Linked DNA regions of Homo sapiens. The protein of the gene in region 3 purifies or fractionates together with the protein of the main gene of each other region. This does not show direct contact. Each region holds a gene or a part of one and is shown on either strand. Other genes may lie near its edges.

Region 1 (3,500 bases), about 25 Mb from region 3:
TTTGTATTATAAAGTTCCATACAATAATCATAAAATAGTATAATGTGTAGACACAATGTTTATACATCGGCTTCAATTCCTTAGTAGCAGTGTATAATACAGTCAACATACTAAAATGTCACATATTTAATCCCCTTCATTATTCTACTCTATTTTTCATTCCACAAGCACTGAACATCCTGGGCCCCAGTAACAAACACCAAGCTAAGTGGACAGAGCCGCGTCCCATGGAGCTGCCCTTCCACATGGGGGCAGGCAACACACAGGAGGCACAGATGCCCTGGAGGAAATAAAGCAGAGAGGAGATACATACAGCTTTGGGGCAGGGAGGAGTAAAAGTATTAAGTTGGGTGGTCAGAGGTGGTCACTAAGAAAGAAACACAGGAGTGATAACTGACAGTCCTCCTTTATTTTGATTGACTATCCATAATTTAAACCTCACACAGAAGAGAATGCCACTCAGTATTTCTACTGATTGTAACCTGAAAGCTTATGATTGTTTTCTGATATAATCTATAAACACACCTACTTAAAATACAAATGAAAAGATTATTTTGTGAATTTCGACTACTATAAATAATGGCAGAATAAGAAACATAAACATACGTACTGCGGAACAAAGGTGGAAAGTGTATACCTGTTCTTCTAAAAAATGAGAAACTTTGGCTTTTAGTATGCACTTCCAGTAGCTAGAAAAGACTGTATTTCGTCAACACTCCCATGACATTGACTTATTTCAAAATTGAGAATAAGTACAATACTGAATTTTTTCTTTTTGTTTTTAGAGAAAAGGTCTCACTCTGTCACCAACACTGGGGTACAGTGGTGTGATCATAGCTCACTGCAGCCTCAACTTCTTGAGTTCAAGCCAACCTCCTACCTCAGCCTCCCAAACAGCTGGGACTACAGGCATATGTCATAGCACCCAGCTAATTTTTAAAATTTTTTTGGTAGAGATGGGTCTCACTATGTTGCTCAGGCTGGTCTTGACCTCCTAGGCTCAAGCAATGTTGAGCCTCCCAAAGTGTTATTAGGATTATAAGTGTGAGCCACCATGCCTGAACAGTATTATATTATTTCTCCAAATTAGTTATGTGAGAAATTCCCTAGGATTTAATACTAAACTTGTTTTAAATTCTGGACTAATTGTAAATTTTTCATAAAAAAAGACTTAGTAACTGTTACATAATTTTTAGATGTTACAATAATTGAGAAAGAAACAGCTATAACTTATGTAACAAATGCACAATAAAGGATTTCCACTTGCAGCTATAAATGAAACAGCTTGTGGCAAATCACCCCTACTACTAAAAACAACTAGAAACGCCATATAAAAAACCAGTGCTGCAGAGACAGTCGGGCTTTGTGGCCACCAGGCCGCTCTGGCTGTGCTGCTCTAGCACAAAAGCAGCCGCGAACTACAGGTGAATGAGTGAGTCTGGCTGTGTTCCAACAAACACTGTTCATAAAAAAGGTGCCTCAAAAAAAGGTGCAGGCCCCAATCTGCAGACTCCTGCCACTTGCCACTTCTCTTCCTGCTAAAACTGGAAAGTGATGAGACCTCAGAACAGGGATCTCAAACGGTTCAGTAGCAGAACTCTTGAACTCTGTAAAATTATTTAAATCCTATGTTATGGTTTGGATGTGTCCCCCAAAGTTCCTTTGTTGGAAACTTCATCCCCAATGCAACAATAGTGAGACGCAGGATCTTTATTAATGCCACTATCTTGGGAGTGGGCTCCTGACACTGATGGGTCCTCTCTCTCTCTCTCCTCTGTTTCCCTCTTCCCGTTTTTCTAGTTCTCGCTCTCACTCACTCTGGGGCACTCTCTTGACTCCTCCACCTTCTACCACAGGACGATGCAGCAAGAAGGACTTCACAGCCCCATGAGCCCCTTGGCTTTGGACTTCTCCAAATAAATGTATTTTCAACAATGGCCAGTAGAAACTGGCAAGGTATGCAAATCCTGAAGAGATGAGGATGGATAAATTGTATAAAAATGTTGAATCACCTGACCAATGAAGATTCCATTTCCGAAAAGGTCAGTCCCAGAGTACTTCATTTAAATAAAGAACTCTTAGAAAAATCAACTTTAGCTTCTAATTCATAATATAAAGACAAGGTTATCTTCAATTGAAATTGCAGAATTTGATTGTGACTTTATTAGACTCCAAACTTAAGTGTGGCCCAATAGACTATAATTATATATCCATAATGTTGCTGGTATTACCCTATATTACTAAGGCACTTTACAGTTGAAAAAATGTTTTTGTATATATTATATAACCTCATTCTAGCAACAAACTTGCAATATCAGCAGGATGATTACTATGGCCTAAATGTTTAATAAAAATTATGCAGGAAGGAACAGAAGACAGAGCACCGCTCAGCCCCAGCTCACAGTCAGGCTCTCTCATTATAAATTACCTAGCTTTTATGTGCATTTTAATAAGTAAATTCCAAAGTCAGGCAAGTCTTTCAACACCGTGCAACCAGAAGTGAAACAAAATGGACACACCATAGCTGGTTAAGCTCACCCTAAATAAACACATTCATTAATATACAAGTCTGGTTAATCCTTTCGCTACTTCTCAAGTTACTGGACTCTATATATTAGAAATTGAACAAGAGCTTGTCTACCTGTCTTGCTTTATGGGCTGTGTGAATGCCATGATTTCTTAGGCAGCTCACAGCTCTTGGGTCTGGGGACCGGCCCACGTTCCAGTCAGAAACAGCACCGCTGTCAATGACCCACTGAAACACAAAACACACAACTTCAAGTCCAAGGACGGTACCTGCCGGGCAACGTGGCTCATGGGAATGCCGTGCCTCTTCATGCAGCTCTGCCCTCGGTAGTCAGGGGGGTTCCCTATCTCATACCCGGAAGTTGCCGCGCTGTCTACCCTCCACTGCAGGGGAAGAAACATGGAATTTTTTTTTTTTTTTTGCAATTTCCTGCCCAGAGGAGTTCAGGTTGGCCTCTTTAAGATAATGAATGGTACTTACATTCTCTGAGATGTTTTGATCGGTTACAAGTTTCCTGAAAACTGCTTCTGCAATGGGTGATCGACAAATGTTACCTTTAAAAAAAGGGAGGGGTGGGGAAACAGGGTTAGGTTGGATGGAAGGGCACATGCCAGCTCCCCTTCTTTACACACCTGACACACGGGGGCTGTGCTATCCCTCAGGAAAAACAAAGGCCAACACTATCCTTTGACGCCTTTGTCCAACCAGTGAGGGTAGACCCTGCTGGAGAACAGCCTATCAGGCTCAAGTTCAGTGATTTGACACCAACCAGCCAAGTACTCCAAGTACAGATGACAAAGATATCAGAAAAACAATTTCAACAAAAATTATTGTTTAAAGAGTTGCTACTAATGATCCAGGAGTGAATCACGAAAATGAAGTGGGTTGCAACCAGCTTATTTTAAAATGAAATACAACAGAATAAAAATAAAATACAGTGGTCTGTCCCTCAGTAGACTCAGGAGCTGGTTCA
Region 2 (3,500 bases), on a different chromosome or scaffold from region 3:
ATTGTTTTAAACTGAAGAGATTTGAGATTCAACAGATGCAGAGAGAAGCCTACTTGGAGTTTATCTGGCTAAAAGCAAATACATGTCACAAACGAGGGCTGACATAAATTCTCCCTTTGGAGTGAGTCTGTTCCCAGGAGAGAGGCCAAGAGTAAACCTCTGGTAGGGGTTGGAGGGGTAGTCTTTTGGCCCTAAGAAAAGAAAGACCACTCATACCTATGTAGACAGACATTGTAAACTTGATCTCTCATTTGTTCTGAAAATACCATTTGTGTTCCCTAAAGAAATCTGTTCTTCCCAAAAGGTTTTTCTCCTGCTGTCCTTTCCTCTTCTAAGTTAGGTATATAAGCCCTAAATTCTAACTACTCAGTTATCACTGAGTGTGAGTGCACCTGTGTATGTGTGTTGCACATGTAAATACACTTTTTCTGCACCTCAAATGCCACTTTTCTGCCATTGAAACAATATCCGAGCTCAGAATACCTTTCATCAAGGTCCTGTTAAGAACTTTCAACAACCTTGAAGTTGGCTGATGGAACATTTAGACCTGCTATCCTTGGGTACAGCCCTAAGTGGGGCCCTCCAGTGGTCTCTGCTTTATGCAGTAATTCCCATTCTCCTCTGTGCTTATTCCCCAGTGACTCATCTTCTCAGTATGCTTCTGGCGTTCTGTTCTTGGGGTGGCATGTTTCTTTACATTCTCAGCCTTTCTGGAAAAGTCAAGGGACTTGCCTTTTCTGCCTAGCCCAACAACTCTCTGCCCTATTTATCCCAGTATATCTTATTGCCTCTTACTGGTAGAGGCAATTAAAGGTCTCAGGTATTCATTTCCTGAACTTCTCATTCTCACTTAACAAACTCACCTACATCTGTGTCCATCCTAGCCATCTCTCTTGAAGGAGCTGTCCCTCCTCCAACAAGAGTAGAATGATACCTCATTTTTAATATGCACTTTTACTGCTTACAGTTGAACCTTTTTTTTTTTTTTTTTTTTTTTGAGACATAATCTTGCTCTGGTGCCCAGGCTGGAGTGCGGTGGCGCAATCTTGGCTCACTGCAACCCTCCGCCTCGCGGGTTCAAGCATTCTCCTGCCTCATCCTCCCGAGTAGCTGGGACTACAGGTGCACACCACCATGCCCGGCACATTTTTTTGTATTTTTAGTAGAGATGGGGTTTCGCCAGGTTGGCCAGGCTGGTCTCAAACTCCTGACCTCAGGTGATCTGCCCGCCTCAGCCTCCCAAAGTGGTTGGGATTATAGACGTGAGCCACCGTGCCCAGCCAAACTTTTTTTTTTTTTAACTGGGTCTCTGTGGCCCAAGCTGGAGCATAGTGGCATGATAATGGCTCACTGCAACCTGGACCTCCTGGGCTCAAGTGATCCTCCTGCATCAGCCTCTCAAGTAGCTCGGACCACAGGCATGCACCACCATGCCCAGATAATTATTTATTTTTTGTAGAGACAGGGTCTCCCTATGTTGCCCAGGTGACTCTTGGACTCCTGGGCTCAGGTGGTCCTCCCACTTCTGCCTCCCAAAATACTGGGATTGTAGGCACTAGCCACTGCACCTGGCCTTGAACAGTTTTTTTTAGTGTTGGCTATTTGTGTCTTTTAGAGCTTGTCTGTCCTTCGTTAGTGTTTCTGCTGGGGTATTTATTTTTTCCTCACTTAGGGTAAAAAAAATAGAAGATATCCTCAAGAACAAGATAAATGCAAATAGCCAGAATTTCCGTAATCGAGAGGTTACAAAAAGTAACAGTCAAATAAATCAGAAAATAATTTTGTGGCAGTTAAAATGAACTACTCATTTAAAAGAGAAGTTGACATTTTAAATAAAGAACTCTTAACTAATAACACACTCAGATGTTTGTATTCTTTCACTTAGCAATGGATTCTGAAAACACAGTCCTAAATACAGAAGACATTTTAAGTAAAGATATGGCATTATTTATAGTAGGGAAAATTGAGCACAAATGTTCAACACGAAGGATTGTAAAGTGATTTATAATATATCCACACACTGTGCTTTCTTAAAAAATACTCTGTGATCAGAAAGTTGGTCCCTTTTATGTCCAGGTTTTCATCTTAGTCCCCCACAATTGTGACACAAACCTCTGTACAATATTGCTGACAAACCTGTGACCGTTTTTTTCCTCATTCCGCAGTTATGTAGGCTCTTACACAGTGATATAGTGGTAACCAGAATATACATGATCCTGTCATCATGAAGCTTAGTCTAGCGGTGACTTTTTTTTTCTTTTTCTTTTTGAGATGGAGTCTCCTTTTTCACCGAGGCTGGGGTGCAGTGGCACATTCTCAGCTCACTGCAACTTCTGCCTCCCAGGTTCAAGCAATTCTCCTGCCTCAGCCTCCCAAGTTGCTGGGATTACAGGCACACGCCACCATGCCTGGCTTATTTTTGTATTTTTAGTAGAGATGGGGTTTCACTGTGTTGGCCAGGCTGTCTTGAACTCCTGACCTTAGATGATCCGCCCGCCTTGACCTCCCAGGAGTGTTGGGATTACAGGCATGAGCCACCACGCCCAGCCAGCAAAAACATTTTTTAACCTGCATTTGAGTCCTGTGATACTTTCTGATGACGCCTTGCAGTGGTTCAAGTGGAATTTTGCAAGTTGAAAGAAATGTCTTTAAGAGGTGATTTCACTCTGTGAGCTGAGAGGCAGTGTGGCTAACTCTTAATTCTTCTTCACTTCACTTTTGGCATATTGGTGTATTTTGTATAACGTTTTTGGATTATTTTGGATAAAATTATAGAAACTCTCCCAAGCTAAATGGGAACATTTTAATTGTATTGCAGTATACTGTTTACATTGGTGGGTGATGACAGTCGACCTTTTTAAAATTTTAATGGTTCGTTGGTTTTATGTTTAGTTGCTTTTTAATACAGAATAAATACATGGTTGTAAAAAACTTAGTACAGATATAAGTAAAGTAAACAGCAAAGGTCACTGACATTTCCCATTCCCTTTACCCAGAGGTTACTTTCTGGGCATTTATAATGTTCCAAGCCCTAGTCTCTACAACTTCATGAGGTAGGTACTATTATCTCCACTTTATGGGAAACTGAGGCACAGAGAAGTTAAGTGACTCGCACAAGGTCGCACAAGTTCTGAGTGGCAGAGGTGAACCAGGATTCAACCCCCGGCATATGTCTCCAGAGCCCAGCTTTTGTCAGAGTTGACCTATTAAGTTTTCAGATGTGCCCATTTCTTATCAGAAAAGGGAAGAATGGCAGAGATACCTAAAGAAAAGTGGAAGGAAGGAAGAAGTAAGTGGATGTAAAGAGTAAAAAGGATGCCTGGCTTCTGAAGAGGAAGTAGACAGGGTAGTGAGAAGCGGTTAGGCACTTACTATGTTGTGGGCATTGCTGACTTGAAATCTGTTTCCTTCTCTGTAAATGGGGGAAGGAGAGTGGTGGTAAAAAGAATAAATGATTAAGTACTCTATAATTGATAGCAATTACTAGAGTAGCATCATTG
Region 3 (3,500 bases):
GGTGAAACCCTATCTCTACTAAAAATACAAAAATTAGCCGGACGTGGTGGCAGTTGCCTATAATCCCAACTACTTGGGAGGCTGAGGTGGGAGAATCACTTGAACCCCGGAGGCGGAGGTTGCAGTGAGCCAAGATTATGCCACTGCACTCCAGCCTGGGCAACAGAGTGAGACTCCTCAAAAATAAATAAAAATAAAAATGAAATTCACATTCTTTTTTTTTTCTTTTCCCTGAGACAGAGTTTCGCTCTTGTCGCTCAGGCTGGAGTGCAGTGGCGCGATCTTGGCTCACTGCAACCTCAGCTTGCTGCAACTTCCGCCTCCCGGGTTTAAGCGATTCTCCTGCCTCAGCCTCCCAAGTAGCTGGGATTACAGGCACATGTCACCACGCCCAGCTAATTTTTGTATTCTTAGTAGAGACAGGGTTTCACCATGTTGGCCAGGCTGGTCTCAAACTCCTGACCTCGTGATCCGTCCACCTCGGCCTCCCAAAGTGTTCGGATTACAGGTGTGAGCCACCGCGTCCAGCCTGAAATTTACCTTTCTTTCTAGTTTTCTTTTCCTCTTTCCTGCTTCAAAGCATAGGATTTCATCAGTGATATAGTAGGACATCCTATTTAAGATAGTTTTGTTCTGAATTCATATAAGTAGCTAGTTTATTTATCTAAGATGTGAGAATTACCATATTATGCCAAAGGACCATGGTATAGTCAACAGACTATTTTGTTTCTGGCAGAAATTTTTTTGGAAGAGATGTTTGTCCCATGATGAGTCAGGAGGATATAATTGACAGAAACCTATTTCAAACCAACTTAAGCAAAATAAAAGAAAATGGATATTAATCAGTTCACATAATCTAGCAACAAGGATGCAGCTGGGCCTCAGAGATGGCTGGAATCATAGGGAATATAGATAGGTCATTTCACTACATCTCTCTCCCTCTCTACCTGTTGGCCTGGAATAACTTTTAAACATTCATCTTTGTGTTTTTCTTTTGTGTTTGAATTATTTATTTTTCTTTTTTTTTTTTTTTTGAGACGGAGTCTTACTCAGTCGCCCAGGTTGGAGTGCAGTGGCGTGATCTCGGCTCACTGCAAGCTCCACCTCCCGGGTTCATGCCATTCTCCTGCCTCAGCCTCCTGAGTAGCTGGGACTACAGGTGCCCACCACCACGCCCGGCTAATTTTTTTTATTTTTTTAGTAGGGACGGGGTTTCACTATGTTAGCCAGGATGGTCTCGATCTCCTGACCTCATGATCCGCCCATCTCGGCCTCCCACAGTGCTGGGATTACAGGCGTGAGCCACCGTGTCCGGCCTAGTGTTTGAATTATTTCTAATGTTCCTTTATCATTTTCCAATGGTGATTTTTCATGAAAAAAAAGACTAGGAACAAATATGCTATGATGTTAACAGTAGTTAATTCTAATATGAATGGTTATTGTTTCCCCTTTGGTTTTATTCTTTATTTCCAAATATCTGAAAACAAATTCACTATTGCTCTTGCTCAAATAAAGATCACAAGAAAATTAAACAGACGTCATTAATATACATCGTTGTTATTCTGCTGTGTGATAACCAAATATAACCAGTGGTAATTAAGATGTCTCTTACTAAGTGAAATAAAACTTTTCATTTTCCTTCATCTTGCTCCTACTTATCCCAAATCAATTTTTCTTAATACCATAGTAATAGCTACCCTTTGTTGGTTGGGAGCTGTGGACCAAAGTTTCTAGAAGTGAAGGTGAAAGTGAAGTAATTGAGAATGCCTACTCCATGTGGGTTCAGTGTTCTTGGGATAAGAAGGCAGGATCATCTGTCAGGTTGCTGACTGCTATTGTAAAGATGATCTGGAATGAGGAAGAGGCACTAAGAAAGCTTCTTAAATTGCATACACATATCCTTTTGAAATTTATAAATGATATTAAGGTAAATGGAGAAACCATGACTTTCTTTCGGATTGTTTCCATTTGAACATTTCAGGGTACACGTCAGAGACAGAGAAATCAAAGTTAACATCTTTGATATGGCTGGACATCCCTTCTTCTATGAGGTAAGAAAGCCTTTTTGACAAAACCTATATCCAGTATTGTTGGTGGTTTGGGGAGAGATCCAGAATTATATGAAACAACCAATATTGATATCATGTGTAAAATTGCATAATTTTAGCTTGATCGTGGCTTGCCTTCAGAGCCTTGAGTTAATAGACAACTGTTGATCTTTTAGGTTATCCTGTTAAATAGTGGTAGGAAATTTCATTGCCAATATTTCAAACATTTCAATAAGACATTTTGACTTTCAGAGGACTTTTGCTTTTTACCTCATACTTTAGCCTAAAATGTGAAAAAAAAAATAATTACATTTATGCTTGGGCTTAAGAACTCAGTGATGCGACTTCTTTCACAGCAGGGTACTGGGGTGATCGTTCCTATTCATGCCTAGTCATCTGCATTCTTTCCAGAGAAGAAGCTAAAGCAACTACTTGATTTATTTTCATCTGCTTACCAGCTCTAAGTAATCACCAAATGAATCTCATGACCATTCTCTTTTGTTTTTCCTTCCTTGGGCTTTTTCATTTTTCTTAAGGAGGTTTTTTGCTCTTTTCTGGTTTGGCCGTTTCACTTCTGCCTTAATCTTTATCATTTCCTTCTCTCTGCTTGCTTTAAGCTTATTTTGCTCTTTTTGTTTTAGATTCTTGAGGTGGGATCTTAGATTATTGATTTGAGACTTTTTCCTTTTTTAATAAATTCATTTAATGCTACATATTTCCCTCTCAGCACAACTGTGTGTCCCACAAATTCTGAGATGTTGTATTTTCATTTTCATTCAGTTCAATGTATTTCTTTAATTTCCCTTGAGACTTTCTGTTTGATGTATGAGTTATTTAGAAGTGTGTTATTCAGGCCGGGAGCAGTAGCTCACGTCTGTAATCCCAGCACTTTGGGAGGCCGAGAAGGGTGGATCACCTGAGGTCAGGAATTCGAGACCAGCCTGGCCAACATGGGGAAACCCTGTCTCTACTAAAAACACAAAAATCAGCCGGGTGTGGTGGCACATCCCTGTAATCCCAGCTTCCTGGGAGGCTGAGGTAGGAGAATCGCTTGAACAGGCGGAGGTTGCAGGGATCCAAAATCGTGCCACTTCACTCCAGCCTGGGTGAAAGAGTGAAACTCCATCTCAAAAAAGAGAGTGTGTTATTCAAAAACAAACAAACAAACAAAAAACACAAAAAAAAACAAAAGAAAAAAAGTATGTTGTTTAGTTTCCAAGTGTTAGGAGATTTTCCTGTTAATCCTTCTGTTACTGATTTCTAGTTTGATTCCATTGTGATCAGAGGCTGCCTCGGTGATGATGGCTGCTGACTGATGAGGGTGGTGGTTGATGTGGCAGTTTCTTAAAATAAGACAACAATAAAGTTTGGCACATTGATTGACTCTTCCTTTCATGAAAGATTTCTCTGTACCATGCAATGCTATTTGACAGCATTTTCACCCACATTAGA
Region 4 (3,500 bases), on a different chromosome or scaffold from region 3:
CATCTGTAGGAAACAGGCACTAATTAAGGAAAGGGCTAAACTAGGATAGATCTTGGAAGCAAAAAATAGTTGAATTTAGGATACTTTGGCAGGAGTGAAACTGTTAATCCCAAATCTTCAAATGTGAGGGTTTCCTATGCATGTGAATTTATGTGCACTTCTGATTTTAGTACAGCTTAATTAACACTGCAGCCCAGTTACTGTTTAGTTCATTGCATAGTACAGTACTGGGCTCTAGTTCTGGGTTGGATCCTGCCAGTTACATGAGCAAGGCACATAACTTTTGTGGATTCATCATTGGCACTAGTAAATTAAATGGGCTTAAGTAAGGGGATAAATTAAGTTCACTCTTTGAGAGCAGACCAGCATATCCCTGTCTGCTTCTTGCAAACTCATTAGTTCTTTGAAGTTATCTAAACAGATTTTGAAAGTTATGTTCCACCATAGTGTAGCCTTCTAAAATAAAGATTACATTTTAAATTAGTTGCCACTTTAACATTGATGCTCCCAGAAGATACATTGTGTTTATCCTGGAGTTTGATGTATTCCCTGACTCATAGCCTTGGGGCTTCTTACGCTTCAACTTGAAAAGCATAGGACCCAGAGGATCTCTTAGGTCTCTTGCAGCTCTGATATGCTATAACACTTGCAACAAAGGAGAGTTTGTTCTTTAGTTTTGATAAAGTATACCTTTAAGAAATTATAAATCCATAACAGGGAAAAATATGACTGACTGATTTGCATGATGTAACATCTTTCTCTGAGAATTAAAGATTGCAATTCTATTTTATGTAGAAGCTGTTTCATCTGAAACTCCATGTAATTTAATAAATGGATTGCAAAATTAGAAAAACCCTTTGTAGATGTCATCATTGTTGCTTTCAATCTTTCTTTGCTGCAATTCTGCTTTTTTCTTTCCTGGCTGCTAATTGGATTAAAGACTGTTTTTGCCAACCATGGCATCTGGAGATGACAGTCCTATCTTTGAAGATGATGAAAGGTAAATGTCTTATATTGCAGTAAACTAGCCTTTGACATTTTCAAGATTGTTATCATTCAAAAGAGTGATTTATCCAAGATACTCTGTTAAGAATACATTTTGTAAAATTGCAGAATACATGGTTCTGCTTTTGTGTGATTTAAAGCAGGAGTAGTAAATACCTGGCGTGGAGGTAGCCACTAGAAACATGGCATCCATTTCAGTAGAGCCTTGATGTGAGGTCTTCTCATTTCTGTCAGCACAGAGTTCTTGGCAACCACTTCAAAATGATATAAAATCCATTTACCATCTTCAGTTTAGAGCGTACAGAGGAGATTAGGGCGAACAAAGAGGAAGATGTAGTTAAGAGAACAGGCTTTGGAGCCAGAATCCTAGGTTTAAATCCTACCTCTGCCACTTAATGTCATTGTGACCTTAGGTAAACCCTTAGCCTCTCTAAGCCTCATCTGTAAAATAAGGATACTAATAGTAGCCATCTCATGGTGATTCTATGAGTTAATATATTTAAAGCTCTTAGAACAATGACTGATACATAGTTATCACTTAATAGCTGTTAGCTATGATTATTATTACTGTAATAAATGATACTTCTGTCAAAGCTAAAAAGATACACCAATATCAAAATATTAATTAGATATTATGTATTATGTCATTCACATAGGATATATTAACATCAAAAATATATGTTGAAGTATATGCCAGAAATCTCTGACAAACCAAAATCCTTTATTTATTTCTTATTTTTGAGACAGTCTCACTCTTTCACCCGGGCTGGAACGTGGTGGTGCAATCATGGCTCACTGCAGCCTCAACCTCCTGGGCTAAGATGGCTCTCTTACCTCAGCATCCCAAGTAGCTGGGACTCCAGGCATGCGCCATCACGTGTGACTAATATGTTTGTAGAGACAGGGTTTCACCATGTTGTCCAGGCTGGTCTGGAACTCCTGGGCTCAAGTAATCTGCCCACCTCAGTCTCCCAAAGTGCTAGGATTACAGGCATGAGCCCCTGCACCCAGCCCAAAGTCCTTTATTTTTTTAAAATAAGATTTCCTGTAATAATGCCAAGAATATTTTTCATAACATTTAAAAATTATTTTTATCTTTATTATAGGGCATTTCTTCCATGACTTTTTTCTGTCTTAGTATAATAAATTAGAACCTTTTTGTTAAAACAAATCCCTAGTGCGAGTTTAAGTATGGGAGGTTTGGAGAGTTCTTGTTTTAGAGTGATTAGACCTGAAAAAGAGAAATAAAATTAATTACCATGGTTTTTACATGGGAGCTGGTGGGAGAAGAATAAAGACTTTTTACTGACCTTTCCATGCACTATACTGTAGCCTAACCTAGAATACTGACCAGGATAAACTGATGCATTCTTAATCCTATTAATATTAAGGTGGCTTTTTTTTAGAAGTAATCGGACTATGTACCCATATATAGTAGTTGTATCTTAAAGGAAGAGTGAATAAGAGGGAGAAAATAGTTACATGTACTGTGAGTAGAATTTCTTAGGTACTGTCACTTTAATATTTTGACATTTTAGAGGTTTTAATCTAATATTTTCATCTTGGAAGGATTAATTGGTTATTTAATTAGTATTTTGGCCTACTATAATTGCTTTATTTTATTCCTTTAGCCCTCCTTACAGCCTAGAAAAAATGACAGATCTCGTAGCTGTTTGGGATGTTGCTTTAAGTGACGGAGTCCACAAGATCGAATTTGAACATGGGACTACATCAGGCAAACGAGTAGTATATGTAGATGGAAAGGTAGGAAGAAAATATGTTACTTTGTAAAATATGATATATAGAGAAACTTGATTTTGTTAAAGTAGCATCTTCATATGTGAATTCAGGGCTTTTTTTTCTTGTAGTCATGTTTTTGATCTGTATCATTTTGCTGTGTAAAGCAAACATAGTTATAGAATTCATGGAATATAGCGTGTAATATTTAAACTTAAAATGCTTTTATTTTCTAAAACCTTGGCATCATAAATTAATAAAATTACATCTTTTTTTTTTCTTTTTTTTGAGACGGAGTCTCGCTGTGTCACCCAGGCTGGAGTGCAGTGGCGCAGTCTCAGCTCACCACAACCTCCACCTTCTGTGTTTAAGCTATTCTCCTGCCTCAGCCTCTCAAGTAGCTGGGATTACAGGCACCTGCCATTACGCCCTGCTGATTTTTTGTATTTTTAGTAGAGACGGGGTTTCACTGTTGGCCAGGCTGGTCTCAAACTCCTGACCTCATGATCCGCCCGCCTCAGCCTCCCAAAGCGCTGGGATTACAGGCATGAGCCACCACTCCCGGCAATGAAATTATATCTAAATGGCATTGCCTTTGTTCACTTTACGTTATTTCTAAAATTAGATATCAATTTTTCTTCCATTTGTTTCATATTTTTCTGTTTTATTATGTAGGAAGAGATAAGAAAAGAGTGGATGTTCAAATTAGTGGGCAAAGAAACATTCTATGTTGGAGCTGCAAAGACAAAAGCGACCAT

What was found. The genes of interacting proteins can lie anywhere in the genome.
Region 1: the proteins of DNAJC27 (region 3) and ACP1 purify together in Homo sapiens (affinity purification with mass spectrometry, with the first as the bait; one large-scale study listed by BioGRID). This does not show direct contact.
Region 2: the proteins of DNAJC27 (region 3) and ANP32B purify together in Homo sapiens (affinity purification with mass spectrometry, with the first as the bait; one large-scale study listed by BioGRID). This does not show direct contact.
Region 4: the proteins of DNAJC27 (region 3) and FAIM purify together in Homo sapiens (affinity purification with mass spectrometry; one large-scale study listed by BioGRID and IntAct). This does not show direct contact.

The regions. Positions count from the first base shown.
Region 1 is NC_000002.12:271,447-274,946, reverse strand, and holds part of ACP1 (low molecular weight phosphotyrosine protein phosphatase), read right to left. Parts: intron 3,082-3,500; coding exon 3,008-3,081; intron 2,911-3,007; coding exon 2,797-2,910; coding exon of another isoform or gene 2,642-2,796; exon of another isoform or gene 2,466-2,641; intron 1-2,465. UniProt on the Homo sapiens protein: Acts on tyrosine phosphorylated proteins, low-MW aryl phosphates and natural and synthetic acyl phosphates with differences in substrate specificity between isoform 1 and isoform 2.
Region 2 is NC_000009.12:97,989,841-97,993,340, forward strand, and holds part of ANP32B (acidic leucine-rich nuclear phosphoprotein 32 family member B), read left to right. Parts: exon of another isoform or gene 1-1,854; intron 1,855-3,500. UniProt on the Homo sapiens protein: Multifunctional protein that is involved in the regulation of many processes including cell proliferation, apoptosis, cell cycle progression or transcription.
Region 3 is NC_000002.12:24,961,956-24,965,455, reverse strand, and holds part of DNAJC27 (dnaJ homolog subfamily C member 27), read left to right. Parts: intron 1-1,981; coding exon 1,982-2,051; intron 2,052-3,500. UniProt on the Homo sapiens protein: GTPase which can activate the MEK/ERK pathway and induce cell transformation when overexpressed. May act as a nuclear scaffold for MAPK1, probably by association with MAPK1 nuclear export signal leading to enhanced ERK1/ERK2 signaling.
Region 4 is NC_000003.12:138,618,771-138,622,270, forward strand, and holds part of FAIM (fas apoptotic inhibitory molecule 1), read left to right. Parts: intron 1-940; coding exon of another isoform or gene 941-956; coding exon 957-1,000; intron 1,001-2,636; coding exon 2,637-2,769; intron 2,770-3,417; coding exon 3,418-3,500. UniProt on the Homo sapiens protein: Plays a role as an inducible effector molecule that mediates Fas resistance produced by surface Ig engagement in B cells.